2 linked regions of the Homo sapiens genome follow. The protein of the gene in region 2 binds, or shares a complex with, the protein of the main gene of each other region. Each region holds a gene or a part of one and is shown on either strand. Other genes may lie near its edges. The genes, in order: VPS39 and VPS41.

The links.
Region 1: VPS41 (region 2) and VPS39 share a complex: the UniProt entries of both Homo sapiens proteins name them as parts of the homotypic fusion and vacuole protein sorting (HOPS) complex.

The regions. Positions count from the first base shown.
Region 1 is NC_000015.10:42,201,725-42,214,281, reverse strand, and holds the start of VPS39 (vam6/Vps39-like protein), read left to right. Parts: upstream 1-5,977; 5' UTR 5,978-6,128; coding exon 6,129-6,201; intron 6,202-12,557. Other genes in the region: TMEM87A (transmembrane protein 87A isoform 4 precursor), read left to right, coding at 2,533-2,574. UniProt on the Homo sapiens protein: Regulator of TGF-beta/activin signaling, inhibiting SMAD3- and activating SMAD2-dependent transcription.
Region 2 is NC_000007.14:38,903,988-38,917,211, forward strand, and holds the start of VPS41 (vacuolar protein sorting-associated protein 41 homolog), read right to left. Parts: upstream 5,205-13,224; 5' UTR 5,188-5,204; coding exon 5,167-5,187; intron 1-5,166. UniProt on the Homo sapiens protein: Plays a role in vesicle-mediated protein trafficking to lysosomal compartments including the endocytic membrane transport and autophagic pathways. Acts as a component of the HOPS endosomal tethering complex.

The sequences.
Region 1 (12,557 bases), on a different chromosome or scaffold from region 2:
AAAGCGTTTAAGAAGGATTAGTGTTACTTTGTCTTTAAGTACCTGGTAGGACTCAACTAAAGAAGCCATCTGGTCCTGGGCTGTTTTTTTGTTGGGATGTTTTTGATTACTGATGGAATCTTGTTGTAGGTCTTACCAGGTTGTGTGTTCCCCCCCCGGATTTTCTATTCCTTGATGATTCAGTCTTGGTAGATTGTATACTTCTAGGAATTATATATTTTGTTCTAGGTTATCCAGTTTCTTGGCATATTTTTAAAAATGTTTTGTATATTTTTATTGAAATTCTTACTTTGTTCATGCATTGTTCTCCTGAGTTCGTTGAACATCTTCATGATAGTTGTTTTGCATTCTCTTTCAAATAATTCCTATACCTCTGTTTCACTGGGGTTGGTTTCCAGAGATTTATCTTCTTCCTTTGTTTGGGCCATGTTTCACTGATTCTCTATTTTCCTTAATTCTTTGTGTTGGTTTCATTGCATTAGAAAAAAAAACAGTTACCTTTCCAGTGTTCATGGACTGGCATTGTACAGGAGAACACCCTCATCAATCATTCTGATAGCCTCTCTAACCCACTCTGTATTATGTCTTTTCTGGACTTCTGCATATGTATTCCCAATCAGAGGGATTTGCTGGGTTTTTCCCTCCCCAGGAATTTATAATCTCTTGCTCCCTTTTGTGTTTATCTGCTGTATCATGGGTCTCCTGGAGCCAGTGGCATAGCCCAGCTCTTTTTTTGTTCATACTGGCCCCAGGCACCTAAAATATACTGGTCCCATCTGTGCTTCAAACCATTCCCTACAGAAACCATTCCCTCAGGTAACCTCTTACAAAGTTGGAACATTTTCACAGTCCATCTCTCCTCCCTAGGGAAAAGCTAGGATTTGGGGATGTTGGGGATTCTACCTGCTTACTCTGCACTGAGCTGGGGGAGCGGCTGTAGTGAGCTCATGCTTGCTAGTCCAAACTTCCACTTTGATTTCAGCAACTTCCAACCTGGGCCCTTTGTTTTTAGCTCTCGGACTCAGGCAAGACAGAAAACAGTCTCTCGTGCAGGTTCCAGAAAAGTCAGAATGTTGGATGTACATTCCAGTCATTTCCTTCCCTCTGCAAAAAGAAGCTGGGAGCTGAGGGTTTCCTCTCTATCATGTGGTACTGTGCTGGGTCCATGGGAAGGGAAGAATTATGGCAAGAGGGTGCCTCAGGTTTTTCTGCCGACTTTGATTCAGCTGGTTTCATGCTTTCCTATAGTGCAGAAGACCCTCAACTGGTTTCTGGATTTCCCACAAAGGGAATTTTTCCATGTGTTATTGAATCAGTGTGTCTGTAGAGGGAAGGAGTGTCCAGGGCTTCCTATTCTGTCATCTTGCTGACATCACTTTCTCCAAGGCCTTTTTTTCCCTTAAAACTGAAAAAGACCTTAAATGAATTACAGGAGAAACAATTTACATGATGGACCAGGAATCAAAATGGCATAAGGCTCTTCAACAACATCTTTGGGAGCCAGAACAAAGCCTTTGAATTCTGAGGAAAATCATTTTCAACCTAGAATTCTGTACTCAACTAAACTATCATTATGAGGGTAAAATAAAGATGTTTCTAGTCACACAAGAAGTAAAATAATTGATGTTCTATATGCAGTTTCTGAAGAAAGTAGGGGAAAATGTTCTCCACAAAAATGAGGAAGCTAGGAAAAAGACTTGGGATCTAGGAAATAAAGGGTCCAACACAGAGACAAGAAAAATTCCCAGTATGATGTAAGAAATTCTCAGGTTGGCAGCTGGGCACCAGGCTTGGATGGAGTGGAGAACAGAGAGCATCGGAAAGGATATTTTTAAGAAAAAGGGAAACATCTATAGATTATCTGATGTGATTGATTATATTCAAAAAGGATTTGTAGTTCTGTCAGTTTGTGATACAATAGTGAGAGGTACTTCGCAAATGAAGCAAAAGAAAAATGAAAATTAACTCTAAGGTATAAAATTGCCTAAGAAGGGAAATTTAAGGGTAGTACATTAATTATTTTAATTGAAATGGGATACTGTAAATACTATATTAAATTAAATGTAATTTTATTTTTTACATGATTTTTAAAAAGTGTAGTAAAAAACACATAACAAATCAACCCTCCTAACCATTCTAAAGTGCAAAGTGCTAACTAGGTGCACGTCTTTGCCCTCATCCTTCACTGGGTCTTCAAGTGAAATTCCTGAATTAGAGGAGTTACACATTTTTATTAAAGCCTAATCTTATGTAAATATTTGTTTACATAAGATCTTAGCTGACTCTATACATTTCCTTCTGAGTGCTGATTTTCTGTCCAGAAGCCTAGAGCTTTTGATTTAGTTGTTCTTGGGTGAGGTCTGGACATCTGTATGTTCAAAATCTTCACAAATGTTTAGGAACCATTTCTCTAAACATTTAATTAACATAAAGTACTCGTGGAAGATGTTTGCTTGGATAGTCTGTATAGAAGATATTTGGAATATAGATCATTTTAACCTAATATACTTCAACCTTTTTTTTTTTCCCTAGGAACGAATGATCACACACTTTGAAAGGTCCAAAATGGAGTAAGGAATGGGAAGATTTGCAGTTAAAGATGGCTACCATCAGGGAAGAGATCAGCATCTGTGTCAGTCTTCTGTACGGCTCCATGGGATTAAAGGAAGCAATGACATCCTGATCTGTTCCTTGATCTTTGGGCATTGGAGTTGGCGAGAGGTGTCAGAACAAAGAGAACATCTTACTGAAAACAAGTTCATAAGATGAGAAAAATCTACGAGCTTCTTATTTACAACACTGCTGCCCCCTTTCCTCCCAGACTCTGACATGGATGTTCATGCAACTTAAGTGTGTTGTTCCTGAACTTTCTGTAATGTTTCATTTTTTAAATCTGACAAACTAAAAAGTTTAACGTCTTCTAAAAGATTGTCATCAACACCATAATATGTAATCTCCAGGAGCAACTGCCTGTAATTTTTATTTATTTAGGGAGTTACATAGGTGATGGGGGAAATTGTTAACTACCTTTCATTTTCCTGGGAAGTCAAGGTTACATCTTGCAGAGGTTGTTTTGAGAAAAAAGGGCCCTTCTGAGTTAAGGAGCCATAGTTCTATCAATGATCAAAAGAAAAAAAAAAAAAGAGAAACTGTTACAGTATGATTCAGATCATTTAAAAAAGCAAAATCAAGTGCAATTTTGTTTACAAATGGTGTATATTAAAGATTTTTCTATTTCAGATGTACTTTAAAGAGAAATATTAGCTTAACTCTTTTGACATCTGCTATTGTGACACATCCCATTGCTGGCAATGTGGTGCACACTCCGAAACTTTTAACTACTGTTTTGTAAGCCTCCAAGGGTGGCATTGCAGGGTCCTTAGGCAATGTTTTGTTTGCCTTTATGCAGAGAGGTGCTCCAAGTGCTGTGATTGAGCACCGTGCTAGAGGAACTGTAATGCTTCAGAAGTTGTAGCTTATACAAAGGAAACAGGTCCTGCTGGCTTAATTTAAACAGTTATTGCATGAAGTAGCGTGGAGGCCCTGGACTGCTGCTCGTTCTTTAGGATGGACTGTTCTGGTATCTGGTATTGGTTTAGAGACTGTTAATAAGGGACATCACAAGGTGATGGGATTCATTTGAAGCACTCTATTTCTGTTTTAATGGTTTTATCCAATTTTGCCTTCCCAAGATTTTTGTTCTACATAAAAAGTTCATGCCACTTTTTAATATAAAAAAATTTAACAAAATTAATGTATTTTTCTCATTTTTTTCAAACTTTTTCTAAAGACTCTTTCTGTCAAACTCATGAAAAATTTCTTTCTATGGCTTTTATTCTAGATTGTCTTATTTTCTGTTAAAACCAATGACCACATGACCACAATCTTCACTAACTCATACTGCAGTGAAAGTGTTAACCCTTAGGTAGTTTCTCTACAACTCTTTGCTATGGTGATTTTTAAAAAAGTTTCCTAGGAAGTATCTCTGAGGAACAGCAATCTGAAGAACTGACTATATTCTCATGCTAAGTCATTAGCCAAAAGCTGGTGGTATTGTTGCATGCTGCTATTGCATATTAAAACGTAGCAGATGAATAATAGTTGTAATGCAGCAGGATAGTTGGTCAAATTATTTTTTTAGGCTGCTTTGATGTTGACTTGAGACTAGGAAAAAAAAAAGCCCATTGTGTTAAGCGGGAGTGTATAGTTCAAGTTCTATAGCCTGGGCCCTGATAATTCTACTTACAGCTTTCTGTATTACTGGGAATAGATATAGTGTGTCATTTCTTAGGTTCAGAAGAAATTGATAGCTTTGCAGTAATCTGTAAAACAATATAAACCTTAGGGTTTTGGGCCTGAACGAAAAGGTACTAGACCTTCCAGCACAACAGCTGGTAATTCTAAATTTTTAAGAAGGTGATCAGCTTCTATGGTGAAAATCAGCTATAACACAGGATTTGTGTAGCAATTTTCATGTTTTTGACTACTTGAAAGTACTTTTCACTTGATTATCAGAACAGCATTTGGTAAAGATGGGACAAGTATTCCTAATTTACATATGAAGAAACTGATATTGTGTAAAAATAAAATGACCAGGACCAGTTTTTTTGACTTCATATCACAGACTTACCCTTTTTCTTTTACATTTTTGCTTTAAACCCAAATGCTTAATTTTTTGACCTACGATGTTTTCCTAGGGGGAAATGACCAGATATAGATCATTCTTGCAGCCCAAACTTTGTTGTTTTTTAAGTCTTCAAGGGGAATACTAAGGTAACCGCAGACAGTACAGGTCCCAGGTCCTATAGGAGGAAAAGCCATGACACCTTCCTAAAGGAATATTAGGATGTAAGACACAGCTTTGGAAAGTTGAATTGGTAGGAATGTGGTCATCAAATTAAAAGGAGGCTTATTTCACTGACTTCCAAGAGTTAGTGAATCATCTCTTGCCTAAACTCTTGCTACTCAAAATGTGATCCAGGGACCAGCAACATCTGGGAGATTTTTGGTGCTCAACTGAGGGTCTTACTCTGGTCCTACTGAATCAAAAGAGGCATTTTAACAATGTCTCTAGGTGATTTGTATGCACGTTAAATTTGAAAAGCATTGGCCTCAAATGGTGGTTCTCAGGGTAATTTTGCCTCCCAGAGGACATACGGAAAAGAGACATTTTTATACCTCTGTGGGGAAGATAACTGGCATTTGGTGGGTGGAAGTTAGGGATGCTGTTAAACATCTTACATTGTACAGAACATGCCCCCTCCCCCAACAAGAAATTATCCTGTCCTAAATGCCGGTAGTGCTATCGCTGAACAACCCTAACCTAAAATGGTGGTTCTCAAGCTTTTAAGTGCATGGACTCACCTTGGGGTTTATTAAAACATAGGTTGCTGTTCCCTTCGAGTTTCAGATTCAGTAGAACTGGAATGGGCCTGAAACTTTGCATTTCTAACAAGTTCACAGGTGCTGCTGCTACTGCTGTTGTTGCTGGTCTAGAACCACTTTCAGAACCACTGGCCTAGAACAACCATGAAAGCATTAAGGTAAGGTGCTTGTACTAATTGGGATATAATGGTAATACTAAAGCTACCACTTACTGAGAGCTTAGTGGGTGTCAGGTGTTGCTAAGCGCTCACGACACTAGGTCACAGGTATTTACAAAAATTTTGCAGATTAGGAAAGTATGGCATCGAAATATTAAATTTTCTAAATCACAGCTAATTTCCTAATTGGTAGATCTCCGTCTGAGGTCGACGCCAAAGGCCGAGTTTTTAACCATCACGCCCACTGCCTAAAGCAGTTCTAAGATTAAGAGTTTGTTCCTTCTATGGTAAGCCCATGGCTACTCGGGATGGAGTAGCTATGGGTCCAGAGTGACGATGGCAACTCAGCAACAAAACAATTCATTTAGAGTGCACCGGGAGGAAGGGGCGGGACTTCGGCTGCGGAAGAGGCGGGCCTAACTAGCAGGAAGTCCGGGGTTGACGATGGCTGTGTTGTTGAAGGGCCTGTAGCCGGGGGGTTCCTGGCCGGATCCCGGTCTACCCTTAGCCCAGACTCGTTCCGGACCCCAGCCCGGCCCGGAACACTCTGGGCGAGACGGCGGTGGCAACTCTCCCCTTGCCGCCATGCACGACGCTTTCGAGCCAGTGCCGATCCTAGAAAAGCTGCCTCTGCAAATCGACTGTCTGGCTGCCTGGGGTGAGCCGAGGGGCCGCGGGGCCGAGGCGGAGTCAGCACAGGAGCGGTCCGGATCTTTTCTGAGGCCGGGGAAGTGGACAGGCGTCCATCCGTGTGGGCTTCGGTTGGATGCTACACGAGAGGGGCTTAGGATGAGAGAAGGCAGAGAGATGACCACCGGCTATAGACATCGATGTCTGTGGGGCTACTTGGGTGATCCCAGTGATCCAGTCATTTAGGGGAGTTCCCCTTGCTTTTGCTCTCTGTGCAGAGTGGGAGGATGAGCTTTCCTTTTTAGTTGTGCTCAGCTTTGGCCCATTTTGATTCCCACGAAGACTTCATTTTAGAGGGTCAAAGCAGTAAGAAGTTCTCAGCCTGCCAGGGGCTTGAAGTTGTCCAGATGTTTGTGTTGTTTTCTAGATGAAAGTCAACCCTGGTTTTGGGGGCATTGAACAAGTTAACACCATATGCTTTTTTTTCCCCTTAGTGATCATTCGTTCATTTCTCATTCCTGTAGGGAACTCATGTAGTTAGCTAACCTTTGAATCTAGCCAAGCGGTTGATTACCTTATATCCAAAGTGTCCAAGTTACCTAACTGTAGGCGGAAGAGTTTCCAGACTGTCTTGAAACCTAACCCATAAAAACTAGCATAGTCCTTTTGGGATTGACTAGTGCAGAAGGCCGGGACAGACATCTCTTGTGTGCTCTGAAATACAAATGAAGGTTTCAGGGATAACGGTGAACATTGTGCTCTTATCCGTGAGTGACTGGTTTGATACCAGCCGCCAAAGACCAAGGAAATCATTTCTAACTTTCCTCTTAATGTTTAGGTCCTAGAAATCAAGGACCATAAAAAGATGATTCAGATCCCTTAATCAGATCTTATACTGAGCTAGATAGGTAACCATGATGGGCCTTATGGAATCTTGGTGGTGTCTGATACCATGTGCGTCAGCTGTTCACAGTGTCACCGAGTCATCCTTGCAGAGTTCTTGATGACTTCTTCTGTAGGGTTCTTTCACGAAGAATTTTCATGTTAATGTGCACCCTTCCTCCTTTAGCAGCTCTGGGTCTCTTTAAAATCATACCTCCACAGTAAGCAGTTCTAGTCCTTTGGGTTAAGAGGAGAATCCTACTTCCTCCAGACATCTCAAGAAAACCAATTTCTGTCATTAAATGCTCTCATTAAACATTTAAATAGAGGAGGAGAAAAAGTTTTTAAATGAAAGACCTGACACTGCATGAAAGGATTAATTCCCCCATTGCTTCATCAGATATACTTATTAGGTGGCTACACGGGCCATTCTCTTTGCTTGGGACAGTAATACAATGATGAATAAGAAACAGTGCCTGTGCTCCTAGGACACACACTGGGGGACAAATACACGTGAACAGATTATAATACTAGAGACATATGCTGCCTATTATTGCAACATGGATGAGGGGGTACCCAACTCAGCTAAGGACATATGTTTCTGAAAGGGATTAATGCAGCTGTGGCTACACTTGACTTAGCTCGTCAGAATCCTTGACTCTGATCTCCTGTTGGACCATTAGCACATAGTGCTCCTAGACTCTCACCAACTCCACTTTGTCACAGTAAAGATTCCTTGCACCTGTGGTTTTCAGGAACACAGTTTTGAAACAATAGGTAGCTTTTGGCCTTCCTTGATCACCCACCGAACAGGAGAAATGCTCTTTGGTTCCTAAGGTGCTTAGGTACATATTAGGTTACAAGAGGCCATTAACTGCCTCCTGCTTCAAAAGTGCTTTATTTCCAGATTTGAGCAGCAGTAATTATTGCTCTTTCTAGTCATTACCCCTTTTTAACTACATTGTGCCTTTGGATGGAAAGTTCGTCCAGGAACTTCCAGAGGCAGGTCACACAGGGCCAAATAGTATTTGAGGTGTAAATGTCTTAGAGACAACATACTCTGTCTCCTGGGAAATAGAAATCAGGAGAGAACATGATGAGGATGATTTCTTTCTAAACTCCAAAGTTGTATAATCCTGCTGCCTTTTCAGCATCTTCATTTGGATGTCCAGTAGCATAGCCAAAACCGTTCTTGATTCCTCTCCCCTCAAACATGCCTGTCCTCCTGTATCTTACGTCTCAGCAAGTGGCATTTCTATTTACCTCTTTGACTAAAGCCAAAAGCTTTGGAATCGTTCTTGACTTCTTTCATTCTGTTTTACACTGTATCCCATCTATCAGCAAATCTTGTGTGTTCTACCCCTAGAATAAATCTGAAATCCAGTCATTTCTCTCTATCTTGATGATTACTACTCTTGAAGGCACCATCATCTGTCACCTGAATTACTGTAGTAGTCTTCTCATTGATCACCCTATATTTGCCAGTGTGCCATTTTCAGTTTTTTGTCTACCAGGTAGAGTGAAACTTTGAAAACCTAAATCTGATTCCATCCTCTACTCAAAACCCTCTCATGGTATCACATCACAACTAGAATAAGTTCCAAAGTTTTCACCCTGTCTGGCAACATCTGACATGATCAGGCCCTGATTTCTTCCCTGTCTTCTGTGTACTTACCTCTCACTCCTTTCTGGTACCAGTCCCACACAGCCTTCTTTGTTCCATCAATGCACAAAGCACATACCCACCTCAGGGCCTTTACATTTGCTGTTTCCTTGGCCTGGCACTCACTTGCCTTTGTATATATGGTTCATTCCTCATTTCACTCAGTTCTCTGCTGAAATGTCACCCAAATCAGCAAAACCTTCCCTGTGTATCCTATATAAAAGAGATTGCCACATCCACCAATGTGCTGTTTTCTTAGCCTTATCTTCTAATCATGGGTCACCATCTACTGTTATTTTATATATTTAATTATTATTGCCTCTCTCACTCCACATTAGAATATAAGTTCCCTCAGGGCAGTATCTTTGTTTTCTGCATTGCTATATCTGCAGTACCTAAAACATTTCCTGACTCAATGGGTATTCATTAAATATATATTTAATGAATAATGTTAATATGAATAGTAATAGCTTGCAGTTGTTAAATGCTAATCTGTATTAGGCTTTTATAAAATAAGACTCCATTTTACAGAAGAAAGACCTAAGGCTTAGAAAATTTAAGAAATTTTTCCAAGGTCACATGTCCTGTAAATCATGTCTGCTTCTAGAGCCTGGTTCTCAAACTTGAATGTATATTCAAAGCCTGTAAAAAATGCAGACTTCACATGTATATATGAGTATCTGTATGTCTATATATACATACATACCTATATTTTCCAGAGAAACAATGGAAAGATAAGTCAAAAATTACTAAAATGATGCCCATAGCAGAAGGGAGAAGAGAGGATAAAATGGACAATGATAGAAACTAGACTTTTCGTCGTTTTAGCTTTGGAACTACATGAATGTTTCATAAAAACAAATAAAATTTAATTTAATTTTATTTTATTTTATTTTATTTCATTATTATTTTTTGAGACTGAGTCTCGCTCTGTCGCCCAGGCTGAAGTGCAGTGGTGCAATCTCAGCTCACTGCAACCTCTGCCTCCCAGGTACAAGCCACTGTCGTGCCTCAGCCTCCCGAGTAGTTAGGATTACTGCCACCCACCACCATACCTGGCTTATTTTTGTAGTTTTAGTAGAGACGGGGTTTCGTCATGTTGGCCAGGCTGGTCTCAAACGCCTGACCTGAGGTGATCCGCCCACCTCGGCCTCCCAAAGTGCTGGGATTACAGGCGTGAGCCACTTTGCCCAGCCAACAAGATTAAATTTTAAAATGTAAATTTCAGGGTACCACTTCAAAGCCATTGAATCTGAATCTCCATGTGCAGGGCCCAGGAATGTGCATTTTTAATAAGTCCAGGTGATTCTAATGCAGCTAATTGGGGGCTTATGCCCAGATGAGAAGTACTGTTATTTGCCATGTTACCCAACGAAGGGAAGTGACTACTATCTTACTTATCTTTGTGGTCCCTGCAGTGGCCAGCATTGGGCCAGAAATGGAATTTATTACATGAAGTTGGACTGCATTGCACTGTTGGAAGGAGCTCCATTAGGGTAATTATGAGCAATAGGGCCTAGCCCTCCTTCTCAGGAGGAATTAAGTCCAACCTTGTGGCTCAGGGTTAGGCCGTCAGGAGTTTTTTAGGGCTGATACTGCTTTGCTTATGTGTGCGTTTTGTGTTTGCTTAGTATGTCTCACTTTCTGTTGTGTGTTACTGTATTGAGTCTCAGAAGGCACTGTCCATCCCATGCTGCGCGTGCTCTGCAGGCTTGTCATCCTCTGTGTTGTGCATGCACAGCTTTGTTAAATAACGTGTCCTAGAGAGTGGAGGACCCAACATGGGACAGGTCCTCTGGCTAATGGCACATGTAATCAATCAGGTTGATTTAAAAGTTTACAGAGAATTTAATCCATCGGATTGATTCCCTTTTATGACCAGTAGAATAGACATTTTATTTTTTTAATTAATTTTTTTTTTGGAGGCAGAATTTCACACTTGTCACCCAGGCTGGAGTGCAATGGCGCACAATCTCCACTCACTGCAACCTCCGCCGCCAGTGTTCAAGTGGTTCTCCTGTCTCAGCCTCCCTAGTACCTGGGATTACAGGTGCTCACCAGCACACCTGGCTAATTTTTTTTTTTTTTTTGAGACAGAGTCCTGCCCCGTCACCCAGGCTGGAGTGCAGTGGTACGATCTCAGCTCACTGCAGCCTCTCCCTCCGGGGTTCATGCAGTTCTCTTGCCTCAGTCTCCTGAGTAGCTGGGATTACAGGCACACACACCACCATGCCTGGCTAATTTTTTTTGTATTTTTAGTAGAGATGGGTTTCCACTGTGTTGGCCAGACTGGTCTTGAACTCCTGACCTCAGGTGATCTGCCCGCCTTGGCCTTCCAAAGTGCTGGGATTACAGGCATGAGCCAACCACACTCGGCCTAATTTTTATATTTTTTAGTAGAGACGGGGTTTCACCATGTTGGCCAGGCTAGTCTCAAACTCCTGACCTCCAGTGATTCGCCCACTTCGGCCTCCGTGCCCGGCCCCTAGACATTTGACTTTTTAAAATGTTTTGTCATGTCTTAGTTTGGGTTCACAAGAAAAAAAAAAAGTAAATTAAAAAATCTATTGGCAAGAAACATTTCAATAAAAATGGAAAATAGACTCTTGAATGTCATGTTTAGGAATTTGACTTCATATTTTGGTAGTGTAGCTTCACAGGATTTTTTAAGCCCCAGTGTGACAGCATCAGAGATCTGCTCTAAGATAACTGACAGCAAATGCGAGAGAATGCATGGAGTGAATGAGACCAGTTGAAGGTGTCACAGGGGTCCCCAGAGAGACTCTATAGGAGGAGGCTGTCATGAGGTACCATTACAGGTAGAATTGATAGACCCTGGCCGACTTGGGAGGAAGCTGAGGCTATTAAAAAAGATAAAGAAAAGCAGGAACTGGCAGGGATTTGGGGGACAGAGTGGAGAGAGAAGGATGGGGAAGATGATGAACATTATGTTGGCCTTTTGTTTTGGTTGTAGATTTTTATGTATGTTATGAGTGGATTTTTAAAAAATTTCCACTTCATTTTATTTATATCTGAAATATCAGTGGGTGGCCTAAAAATCAACTTTAATATTGCTAAATTGCTTGATATCATGATATCTATAAAGTTCTAAATATAGTATCTTTTACAAAACAAATATTGCAAAATGAATTCTTTTATTTTTTCATGTTCTGCTGCAGCATAAATCTCCAGCCTTCATTAGAGCTGCTGTTATTTCTGATTTCAACATTTTTTTTGTGTGTGACCTGCCTTTCCTTTAAGACCCCAAATCAAAGAAAATAGAATCACTCTGTTTTTCTGGATGACTAAGAACATCATCCTGGAGAAATACTATTGATCCTTTGGATAAGGAATGTAGGTGCTGACCTGTTTTTATAAATATAACTACTGCCATTCAGACAACCTTTGGCTGACACCCATTTTTTTTGACATGGGTGCCTTAGTAAGTACATCACAGCATGTGGTTGGGAATCAAGACAAATTGGGGTTGGGATCCCAACTCTGCTGCTTGCCACATGTGTGACTCTGGAAAAGTTATATATTCCCTAGGCCTCAACTTCCTCATCTATAAAATGGGGATTTGAAAAAAGGACTTACTTCAAGGGATAGTTGTGAGGATTAGTGAAATAACAGATGCGTTTAGCATTTCCTGGAACACAATACATGCTCAATAAAAGTTATCTATTTGTACCATTATCCAAGATTTTATTTTACAGAGGTCAAGAATCAAGAGAGTTTATGAAAGGAATGAGTGACCTTTATGTTATCAAAAAGCTAAGGAAGTATCTGTACATGCTTACCTTCCTTGAATGATGTAATATGGGTCTGTCAGGGTAATT
Region 2 (13,224 bases):
ATCAAAACTCAGTTTGGGGAATTAGCTAATACCCACTAACACACTCCATCTGCACAGACTCTGATTCAGTAGGTTTAAAATAAGAGCCTGGAATCACAAGCCATTTTTAACAAAAACAAAAACAAAAAAACCATAAGGAGGCCCAGGCATCAAGAAGAAACAAAGGCAACAGGGGACTGCACAGCCATGAATGGGAAGTAGCATGAGACACAGAAGCCCCTGATCTGATGAGTGTCCTCTCTCCAAGGTGTTAATGTGGGCGCGGCGGAGGCTACTAATAATCAGCTAGTGAAGTGGCCTCTAGCCGACCAATTCAGGTGAAGATAAGTGGAAAAACTAACAAAGCAATCCGCTAGTCCAGCAAAACTAATCTGTGACTACATTTTAGTTACATGATGGGAAAGAGTGCACCCTCTAAAATCTGTCTGATTCTATACTTTTAAAACTTCTTGTTTGGGTTTTGTTTTTCCTTTAGTTAGTAGTAACACTGCCTTTAAAATATCTATCTTAGCCAAACTGTAAGAAAAGAGAATTGTGCATACGTAAGCCAAGTCCAGGTTTCGATGATTAACCTCTGTCTTATTTATACAACCATTTCAACCTAGCCACTTTAACATACTTTATATTCACAAAAGTTTTAACATACTTCATACTCACAAAAGTTTTAGAGAGTAAAATTCCCAGTTACAGGCAAGAAAATCGAAGCACTCAAATTTGTATTGATTTGATTTTTATTGTAACATAATCACATGGGGATATACATGACAAATATGACATCTAATAATCCATAAGTGATCTACAATAAGGACAGAATTCCCCTAATTTCTAAAATGCAGAAGGAGAATTCAAAGTAGAAACTCTCCTACTTGATTAAGAAATAGATGGTCTAATCGTGGAAATACTTTAATGGACCAGGGTCCAGGTTGGTTGATTAGGAAGATCAAAGGGTACCTGGGGAGCAGGCAAGAGTAAAGAAAGTATAGAATGTAACCTACATTATAGTATAGATGTAATCCACATTACATCTGAATTAATAACTTAAAAAAGGTGCAAGTAAGATAAAATAATTTCACGCAAATCCTACTAATATACAATTTGACAATTTGAAATGCTATTTTCCCCCTAATAAATTCATTTAAACACTTTACTAAACACTTAGTACCTATAAAGCACTAGCCCTGTGGAAGATACAGACATGAGTAAGTTCTTGTTCTTATTCTTGAGGACTCAGCAATCTCTAGGAGAGATAAGACAAATACACAAACAACCAGACTTCAAGCAGAATGTTATTCATAAGAAAGATATGGACAAATACTGTTGGGCATCTGTGAATATGAAGGTCAACTATAAATCGTTTTGGAGCTAAGCAAAACTGCTGGTTAGAAGATTTCCAGGCAGAATGCAGGGTATTCATTTTTTCTGTAAACTATAAAATATATATGTAGTTACTTTTGACAACTACCTTTACCATATTAGGCAAAAGCAAGAATTTCCCAGTGACTTATAAAAAAATTTTCATTCATACCTAAAAAGTGGTTTTAGTTTCAGATCCTCTGAGCTGTTTTATACCACAATAACTCAGTGCAGATGTCACTATTTTGGTTCTTCTGAAAATAAATGGGGAGGGGAGCAATCACCAAAGAAACAACACTCACGAAAGATAATGTGGAGACATTTAGTTTTGTGTTGCTAATCCTGGAGATTACTGGCATTTATGATACATGATACCAAGAAAAAAATGTATGCCAAGTTTTCTAAAAAGTTCAATAGAACAGTTATTTTCTCCATTTTTGGGGGTTTTTTTGTTGTTGTTGTTTGTTTTTGAGATGGAGTCTCCCTCTTGTCACCCAGGCTGGAGTGCAATGGCACAATCTCGGCTCACTGCAACCTCTGCCTCCTGGGTTCAAGTGATTCTCCTGCCTCAGCCTCCCGAGTAGCTGGGATTACAGGCGCCCACCACCATGCCTGACTAATTTTTTTGTATTTTTAGTAGTGACGGGGTTTCACCATGTTGGCCCGTCTGGTCTCGAACTCCTGACCTCAGGTGATCCACCCGCCTCAGCCTCCCGAAGTGCTGGGATTACAGGCATGAGCCACCGCACGCAGCCCTATTTTCTCCATTTTTATACACTTTTAGCTTTAAAAAAATGGTATAATAAAGCCCTACTACCGTCATCAGATTTCAATGGCTTCCTACTGTGAAATGCAAAAACAAATCAGAGAAAAGCCTAACCATTTTTAATCTATAAAGGATAAGATTAGGTACAATTACTTACTTTCTTTTAAAAAAAAGAACTGAACAATTTGTGAATGTGTCTTTCAGCCATTTACAACAGACTGCTGGGTTTTTTTTTGTTTGTTTTTCGTTTTTTTTTTAAACAGGGTCTTGCTCTGTTGCCCAGACTGAAGTGCAGTGGCACGATCATGGCTCACTGCTGCCCCGACCCTCTTGACTCAAGCAATCCTCCCACCTCAGCCTCCCGAGTAGCTGGGACTACACACCACCATGCCTGGCTAATTTTTGTAATTTTTGTAGAGATAGGGTTTTGCTATGTTGCCCAGGCTCGTCTCGAACTCCTGGGCTCAAACAATCGCCCCACCTTGGCCTCCCAAAGTGCTGGGATTACAGGTATGGGCCATTGTGCCTGGTCCACGACTAGTCTTTTTAAGATACTGACACCACTGGAGAGGAGAATGCCCACTCCAACTACATATTGGCTGTTAAAGCATCAAAGTGGAATGGTGGCTTGAGGGAAAATCATTAAAATGGAAAGGGCTAATTCTACTTCATAAAGTAAAAAAACTATTTAGATTTAGGTTCTTACATATATTTTAAAAAGGTAGGGTATTCTAGTGAAAAGTCATGAGCTATGGAGACAGAGGACTGGAGATTTATTATATTATAGATATAAGCCTGAGCACGTTACTCAAGTTGCCTGAATTTCAATTTGTTTATCAGTAAAAGTCAATCATTTAACACAAATTTATTAAGTAACAAGCAATATTCTAGGTATTGGACATACAGCAGTGAACAAATCCTTGTCAGGATGTTCCAAGCTCTGTGGTAAGAGGTACACAGAAATATACAGGGAAAAAAAAAAAAACAAATTTTATAATACAGTATGTCAAACGGTGATGCACATTATAGGGAAAAATAATGCAGGAAGGTTTCAAAGCATGGTCAGGGAAGGTCGCAATGAAAAAGAACACTTGGACAAAGACATGAAGGAAATGAGGAAGCCTGTAAATATCAGGGTTCCTCAAAAAGGAACAGCATGAGCAAAGAGGCCCTGAGATAGGAACCTGCCTGGCTTTTTGAAGACTAAGAGAGCCAGTACAGCTGATGCAGAGTCACAGAAGGGAAGGAGAGTAGTGGGAAAAATGAGGTCAAGAAAAGGTGGCTAAGGGCAGCTGGGTCAAGGTCCTGTGGGACAACCAGGCTACCGTAATGGCTGTGGCTTTTCCTCTGAATAAGATTAGAAGCCCCTGGAAAGTCTAGAATATCAGAGGTGTTTCACCCATGTATGAGAGTAAACATTTACCTCATAGAATTCTTTTGGGAAGACCAAATGCAATATGGAAGGGTTTTTAAAACTAGAAAATAATGTACAAATGTGAAACATTATTATATCCCTAATTTTGTATGTGTCATTTTTATATCAGACAACTTTGTTAAATTCTTCTTCTGCACTAAACAGTGGTAAATATTTCATAGGTTTTTTTCAATGGAAGAAAAAACAATGGTTTTTCTAGGAGCAACTCTCTCCATTTCTATTCCACTATATCTAAGAACATATGAAACTCAGTTTTTTGCTTTCAAATCAAACCATAAAACAAACATTTCAACATGAAATAAAGATGCACAATGTGAAAAACAATCTCACCCTTATTCAAAGGAGCAATGGCAGTCATGAAATGATATGTTCTTAATGAGTGTTTTCCTTTGAACTGCTAGAATGGAAATAGGAGTCTCTAGTGTTAGATAAGAGACTTTGTTATCTTGTTATCACAAGGACCAGCCAAACCAAATTTCTACCTAGTCAAACGTCTCAATTATTGGCATATATAAAATATATACAGAACAAATTTTCACTATGAAGTAAAAACAAATGAAGTATGTTGAAAATAGTAAAAATTATTGAACTAGGTAAATGACTCTTATGATACTAAACAGCCCATCATCAAGTCACTGTTTAGAGACAATGACTGCAACTGACAGCCCTGTTAACTTGTGAAGAAAAACAGTATCCAACTGAAATAACACTGGAAATGGAAACTTAAGTTATCTCCCCCAAGTTCTAGCCTCTTTTTTGGTCTGCTTCTCTTTTTTGTCTTTTTTATTTTACTTCGTCATTTCATAAAATGTGTGATTACCACTACTGCTATATGAAAATAATTCATATTCCCATCACCAATTTCTACCCTAAACTTCAGTGCCACGTTGCCAGTTGTTGACTGGATACTACCAGCAACAAATAATCCCATTTAATTTTTACTAAGCCCAACAGTTCTAAGTACTCTAACTTTGTGTATAAACTCCTCTCTCCATCTTAAACCACCCTCTGAGGACGGCCTTATTATTACCCCCATCTCACACTGGAAAGTTAAATAAGTAGCTCAAAGTAGCACATTGGGTAAGAAAAGGAACCAGCACTTGGACCCCAGGCATTTTTGCTCCAGAACGGATGCATTTAATCCCTGCTGCACCGCAACAGTGCTCCAGCTCTGTACCTAACTCCAATAGATACAAAACAAAACTCATCGTCTACTCTCTCCTAGTTCTTATTGTCCTACTTCAAGTGGAAAGCAACTTAAATTTCAGTCACCCGGCCTCTCTTCCTCCTCCCACAGGCAGTCAGTCCCTGAGGTAGCCGGGCCTGCCTTCATGCCAAAATTTCCCTGGGCAAAGGCCACAGGGATGGGGCCCGAGGAAAGGCAGCCCGAACGCGGGGGTGTGTCAGAGCGCTTTCCCTAGGTGCCCTCCCGGGGCTGGCATCCTCTCTGCTCCCCGAAACCAACTTTCGCCATCCCACCCCGCCCTGCCGCGGACCTGCCTTGCGCTATTCCAGCAGCTCCGCACCTCCACCCACTCCACTCCACCCTCCCCAAACAGCCCACCCTAGTCTCTATATCCCTGTGCCCTCAACTACCACCTGCACCCTTTACCTGCTCCTCTGCTTCCGCCATGGCGCCACGGGAGAGTCACCTGACAGACCCGGAAATAAGAGGAAACCACACACTTGGCCCAGGGCCTTCTGGGAAATGTAGTTTTAGCTTCATCTGAGCCTGGAAATCTCTTCTAGGGGACGGACCTGCTAGGGTTCATTTCTGCTGCCAATTCTCCAAACTCAATGGAATTCTGCTTTGAAGGATGTGAACATAACCATTGCTAATACTATAGCTTATTTTATTGTTGTTCTTGTTTCTCTAGTTATTCTAGTGTTTATTAAGCACTTACTATGTCATGCCCTGGGTTTATAGCTTTGCATAAATTATCTCATTTAATCCTCACAGCAATTCCTACTATCATCCCCATTTATAGGGGAGAATACCGTAGCTCAGAGGTCATGCAGCTAGTAAGAGGCAGAACTAGTAATAGAATTCAGCCCTGCCTGATGCCAAAGTCTCTGTGATTGCCAAATGCTGCTTACTCTAAAAGTGTTCTTGTCCTTTTTTCTCTCTCTTTTTTAAGTATATTCAGTGAATATAAAGCAGTCTTTGCAGTGGAGAGTCAGAGAAAATTTATACGCCAACAAATAATATCATTATTTTTGCTTGCTACTTTGTCTTCTCCTGTCATATGAACATTGATTTAAAAAAAATCTCTGTTGTTTAATAAATTAATTGTTAAACTTTTGTTGAGGATATTCAATAGGTAAATGTTCAAGTGAAGACACAATATGAAGTTGTCCTTGGTCAAAATCTGCACAACCACTGTATTACTTCCAGCCTTCAGAATGACTGATTCCTTCTCCATGTTTCTGAACATTATGAATTCTGTTTCTTAACCCTCAGGAATCTGCAGCACCTTGTCCAAAGACAGACATTTTACAATTTCCATTCACTGGAGTAGCTGGTGACCAGCAGAGGGCATTGCAAATGGCAGCATGTGGTGATTGCCTCAGTACCTTTTTTGACTCCCTGTGCCTCATTGACTCTGACCCAGTAGGAAGTCATGGACTCAGTACTCTGTCTGTAGCTTGCTCAACCCATGATTCCTCAATGGCCCAGAAGCCAAGGTGACATCATCTCTGAGACACCTGTCTTCTCCCCAGGGCCTAAACAGCCTTACCTCCATCTTCTTCCTCCAAGCCTTGCTGGGGTTCCTCTTCCAGTGGGCTAATCACTCAGCCGACAGGATAGACCACCCTGAGGCATTTAAATGTCTATAAGCAGCCAGGTGCAGTGGCTTTCACCTGTAATCCCAGCACTTTGGGAGGCCAAGGCAGTCAGATTTCATGAGCTCAAGAGTTTGAGACCATCCTGGACAACATGGCAAAACCCTGTCTCTACAAAAAATACCAAAAATTAGCCGGGCATAATGGTGTGCGCCTGTAGTTCCAGCTACTCAGGAGGCTGAGGTGGGGGTTAAGGCTGCAGTGAGCATTGATGGTGCCACTGCACTCCAGCCTGGGCAACAGAGTGAGACCCTATCTGAAAAAAAAGAAAAAAGAAAAAAGAAATCCATAAGCAAGCACCCAATGCCCTAAGTATAAACCTAGGGCAAGTATAAACCTAACCCAAGAGTTTCTAAAATCTCTTGCAAAGCAGCCCAGGGCCAAACATTGCTCATGATGAACTCCAGATCCCAGAAAAACTTTAATACAGACCAAAGAGACTGTGGAAGCCCTCAGTCGAGTATCCACGGGAAAGAGAAATAAAATGAGCTCTTCCACTTTTCTGACTTTCCTCACAAACTCCAATTTTCTCTTTTCTGTTATGAGTGACAGCCACCCATAAACCTCTAGGACTACAGCCTCTCCAACTGGGCAATCTCCTCTTCTATGCTGAATGGATGAGATTGGGATGAAGAAGGAAAATAAGGGATTATTACCACTGTCTTAACCACAAGGTCATTTTTGTTTTATGGTTCCATTTTATTTTGGTGAGAAGTCAAGCAGCCCAAGCAAGCAAAGCTGAAGGCCATCCACTCTGGGCCTTCCTGGCCTTTCTACTTTTCTGGAATGAGAATGTTTATTCTCTTTCTCAAGAAGGGTGTTATGGGTCTTATTAAAGATATAGCCAGACTTTATAGGTTTTCCTCTGCTCATTTAACCGTAGAAACTCTCAATTCCCCAAGTTTGTTCCGCATTCAGTATACTCTCTTGATTACAATAAAGTATTATGAGCCTCTTTCCTTTTGGAGAGACTGGAAAAGTGAAGAGACACAGGTATGGAAAGGTGAATTAGAGGAAGAAACCTACTATGAACTAGCAGGTTCGTGCTGGGACAGTGGACAGGATGAAATTCACATGTGACCTCCAAATCCCATTTGCTCATGTGAAGTGAGAGTTTGAGGCTCTCTTATCTAGGTGGTCTTGTATTCTCCAACTACTCTAAGTGTAGTCCAAAGACTACCTGGGAGCTTGTTAAAAATGAAGAATTTGGGGCCCTTTGAGAGATGTATTTAACCACAATCTGGATTTTAATAGTATCCCTCAGTCATATGCATATACTTTCAAGTTTGAGGAGTAGTCAGCCTAACAGTCACTGATTCTGTGTCAAATCACCTGCTCAGTCCACCCTCTCCCAACTTCAAGATACGGAGGTAAAGGGCTGGGCGCAGTGACTCACGCCTGTAATCCCAGCACTTTGGGAGGCCAAGGCGGGCGGATCCCCTGAGGTCAAGAGATCGAGACCATCCTGGTCAACATAGTGAAACCCCGTCTCTACTAAAAATACAAAAATTAGCCAGGCGTGGTGGTGTGCGCCTGTAATCCCAGCTACTCGGGAGGCTGAGGCAGGAGAATCGCTTGAACTCGGGAGGCGGAGGTTGCAGTGAGCCAAGATCACACTACTACACTACAGCCTGGTGACAGAGCAAGACTCTGTCTCAAAAAACAAAAACAAAAACAAAAACTAAAACTAAAACAAAAATGCAGATGGAGGTAAAGGTAAGATTCAACTTCTCATTCTCAGTCTATAGGACCTAAAATTGTTAATAGACTTCAGAAAACAGACCTAAGACCTTATATTTGTAGAGTGGCTCACTGGTTTCAAGGATCTGTCTCATATGTTTGTTTCGTAGGTCTGAAACAGTTTACTAACTCAAATTATAGCCATTTTATTCGTGACAATAGCATTATTTCATTGCTTAAACAATATGAACGGCTTTAATATTTTCCATTATTAAATAGCATTTATAAATTCAGGAAACTTGAAAAATCGGCAAAGTGGACAAAGTTAAAATAATTCACTCTTATGCCCTTGCTAATTAGGGGATGTGTTGTAGATTCTTTTCCCAATCTTCAGCTTCCATTCCTTCTTAGATTGCTACCTTTCTCAATCTACAGGTGTGACAGCTAATGACAAGCAAATTTACACCACATTACACTACTAATTCCAAGCTACAATCTTAGCCTTTATTTAATTAACTGTACCAAATAGCTAAAAGAATATTGATGTTATCTTTAGCAAATTTGGCCAGCCTCAGCTTATTTTGCAGTTTAGTTTTTCCAAAACTGTACCTACTGAAACCTGTTACCTTCTAATATTCTAAATGTCATTTTAAGATATAGCTTATTGGAAATTTCCCTGAGCAACCACATTAGATTTTCTTAATAACATTTTTCTAATTACAAAAGTACTATGTGTTCATAATAGATAACTGGAAAAATACAATAAATTATAAAATAAAATTCTAAAACCACTCATGATTTCTCCACTTAGATTATGATTGTTGGATATATGCCTTTCTTTTTTCTTCTCTTTTTTCTCTCTCTTCCTCCTTTCCCCTCTCTGTCTCTCTGTATTTATTTAAAAACTTGTCCAACAAAGATCATATTACCAAGTTTTGTCATTTTTTTTTACTTAGTCATATTTCAAGATTGTTTCCCAATAACAATCTTGTAAAATATTCTTCTAAAACATGATTTTAATAAAACATGATTTCACATTATAATTCCATCGTATGAAAAGTAATGTATATAATCATTCTATTTTGTTGTATACTTTAAGTACATCTAATTAACATCCCTGTGCATAATTCTGGAAAATGCTATAATGCAAGGTGGTATCAACTGCAGGAATAAAGATCATCCAAATGAGAAATGCCATTGAGGAGTTATTCAGAGCTTACTCTAGAAAGGGAGTCAGCCACCAGCACTTGCGCTGTGGCAGAGACTCAAACACAGGCACAAGAGTGGGAAGGTAGGAAAAGGGAAGGCTTCAGGTAGGCCCTGGTTGGAGGCTGCTGGCATGAGAAAGCTGCAGGTGGGGTAACCAGAAGTGGGGCAACCTATGTGATTGGTAGGGGTGGATATTTGGTTTTCTCTGGTTGCTCTTAGTTGGAAGTGGGAGTAAAAATTAAGGAAGTTGTCAACTACCAATAAAGTCCTGGTCATTTTAGGCTGATTGTTTCAGAGGTTATAGTTAAGGTTCCTGGATTGTTACTAGAGATGGCAGTTTTGACTGTCAGGCTAGATTCCTGGGTTTTCTATTGTGGACAATGGCTTGGTTTCCTGGGCAATTGCTGCAGCTTGCTTCAGACTGTGGGTCAGAGTTCTATTTTAATATCTGGTCTGGCCAGTGCCCCTTTATATATTCAGTCTCTCACAATTTATTCTACAGTGAGCTATATATGAGAGCTCTAAACCCTCCTACCATCAAACATTAGATATTATCATTTTTTACACATTTCATTAATTTAGCTTGGGGAAAATAGTATTAATATTTTAATTTTTGTTTTAACTGTATGTCTTTGATTTCTGATGAGGGGATGTTTTTCATAAATTTACTGGCCATTTTCAACTTTGTTCTGTCCTTTCTACTCTTGCTCTTTACCCATCTTTTGTGGGAAAGTTGATCTTTTCCCTATTTGGCTTGTAAAAGAAATGTTCAGTAGATATTTGGTTATTTGGTTTGAAGCTAGGAGGAGTCTGGTGCTGGATGTAAATAATCTGAGGTCTTCAACATATATTAGGTTGGTGCAAAAGTAATTGCAGTTTTTGCCATTACTTTTAATTGATACTTGAGGTATAGTATTGTGTAGTATTACAACCTAAGAGAGAATCTTTGGAAATACATAGATTTGAGGGAACTTTGAAGAGGTAAAGTTTAGACTCACTGTGGTGGTTCTCTTGCTAGATTCTTGTGAAATTAGTGTGCCTTGATTTGCACGAAGGGGTTTTATTGGTAAAATCAAATAGTCACTTTATTTTCCCAATTCACAGAAAGAAATCAATTGATTAATGGGTAAAATATTTTATTTAGGGTTTTCACATATGCTTTCTTGAAATCTTTGATTTTTTGCTATTGCTTAGCTATAAACAAGCACTGAGACATAAAAATACATAAAAATAGTAAATAAATCCCAACCAAAAAAATCAGAAAGAAACTATAAAGCTTGCTTTGACAACTTCTTACTTTTAAACATGTACCAGGCACCTAGCACAGTGTATGTGCATAATAGGGTCACTATAAATATTTGTTGACTGAATCAATTAATTAATTGAACATCTTTCCATTCATGGTGCTTTCTCAAACTAGACTATTTGGTGCCTTGCCACCTGAGTACGTTTCAGACCTGTTCTATGAGCAAATAAAAAGATATTGAAGATTTAGAGCAGTGAAATGACACAAAGAAAGTGGTATCTGGGACGTTTAAGTCAGCCATTGTGTGAGAGTTTGAAGGTGGGAGTGATCAAATCAGTTGGGAAGATCAGACATGACTTCAAGCAGCACATCAAGTGTTCCTTAAAGGATAGGTAAGAGGCTGATGGTAAGAGGAAAGGGAAAATATTCCAGGTAAAGGGAACAGTATAAGAAGAGACATAAAGATAGGCCGGGCGCAGTGGCTCACGCCTGTAATCCCAACACTTTGGGAGGCCGAGGCGGGCAGATCACGAGGTCAGGAGATGGAGACCATCGTGGCTAACACGGTGAAACCCCGTCTCTACTACAAAAATACAAAAAATTAGCTGGGCGTGGTGGCGGGTGCCTGTAGCCCCAGCTACTCCGGAGGCTGAGGCAGAATGGCATGAGCCTGGGAGGTGGAGCTTGCAATGAGCCAAGATGGCTGCCACTGCACTCCAACCTGGGTGACAGAGCAAGACTCCGTCTCAGAAAAAAAAAAAAAAAAAGGAAGAGACATAAAGATGTGGAATAGCATCCAAAGAGTCAGATACAAGACCAATTAGGTAGGATGGTGCTAGAGTCTGTCAATATAAATTTGTGTATAATTCCACAGGCAGTTGTAGCAGAGACTGCTAAATGCCTGCCTAATATCCATTCACTTCTACTTTATTGGTAAAAGAACTCCTAAAATATTAGGGGCAGCAATATGTTTAAATAAAAGACATTTCCTGGTCTCCATCACAGTTAGGCATGGCTATGTAATTAAGTTCTGGTCAATGACATACAAGTGGAAATGTTATGTGTGCCTTTCAGGGAAGTCTATTAAAGGGGAACAGACATCTGGGGATACCCCTTTCACCATTTCTGCCATTAGATTCTCCAGCAACCACACAGGTCCCACAAGTGACCTTGAGGATGAAAACCAAATTCTAAGGATGAAGCAGAAAGATAGGAGAAGCCTGGGTCCCTGATGACTGAAGCCAACACGCTCCTCTAAACTGCCTGCCTCCAAACTAATGTTTTGTTTTTTTTTCAAACAGGGTTTTACTCTTGTCACCAGGGCTGGAGTCCAGTGGCAGGATCTTGGCTCACTGCAACCTCCGCCTACCCGCTCAAGTGATTCTCCTGCCTTAGCCTCCCGAGTAGCTGGGACTACAGGTGTACACCACCACGCCTGGCTAATTTTTGTATTTTTAGCAGAGACGGGGTTTCACCATGTTGCTCAGGCTGGTCTTGAACTCCTGAGCTCAGGTGATCCACCCACCTCGGCCTCCCAGAATGCTGAGATTACAGGCGTGAGCCACTAAGCCCAGCCTCCAAACTCATTTTGAATAAAATAATAATCCCTTGTGTTATTGTAGCTTGCCTATCACAAGCAGACAGACTTAATACTAACTGATACAGTGGTAGGGAGCCATTGAGGAGTTTTGAGAATAGAAATGACTCAGCCAAAAGACATCACCTACTGCACCTGAGGAAATTATTATTCTTCTACTTGCCCACCTGACACAGGAGAAAGGGAGCAATCACACGCTCGTGTGTGAGAAGAACAAATTTTCAGATTATAAAAGTTTTGGAATCTTGGGACATAGGACAAGAACATTACTGCCAGGGTACCAATTTGCATTTTTTTTTCCAGTTCATTGTGATATTTAAGAGCTTGAGAATCAGATCAGGATTCAAATTTTGTGTGTGCCATTTATAATAAATCTAGGACAAGTTAACTTTTCCAAAGTCCAGTATTCTTAGCTATTAAATGGGCTAAAAGTACCTTCCAATCAGGGTTGTTGCAAAAAACAAATGAGAAAATGTAGGTCAAGTTCCTTGCCAAAGGCTGGGGCCTAGTTGTATTTATCACTGCTGTACTGCTATTTTGTTTCCTGCACTTCAGTATACACATAACGAACACTGCAGTCTCCTCTTCAGGTTCCATTTTTCATGATCCTCATTTAGAGGCACAGGACCACTCTCAAGACTTACTTGTTTTCATAAAAAGAAGAAAAGAAATTTGGGGGAATGTGCAGAGTCGCCCTTTACTCAGTCTCTCAAAGGAGACTGTGCAGTGATTATCAGAAATCTCTTATACATAAAGAAAGAGTATGGCCCAAAAATGTTAGTTTCTGTACAATTACAGAGAACGTGGAACTGTATCTTACTCATAGTGAGGTTAGAAAATGCTACCAGTTACCCTTTTCTATGCAATTTCCCATAAGTGATCGTCCTTCTAGATATGTGTGCTATCATAAGCAATATATTTGGTCTTTATCTCTGGTTCCTGGCACAGAGCACTTAAAACCTTTAGAATTTCCCAAGTGATAGGAGTATATTTTGTTATTGAATCCCTTTTTATCACACTTGAGTTTATACTAATGAGATGACTTAGGGTGGGGCTCCTATATAGCAGCAAGATGGGACTGGTCACCAGAAAGA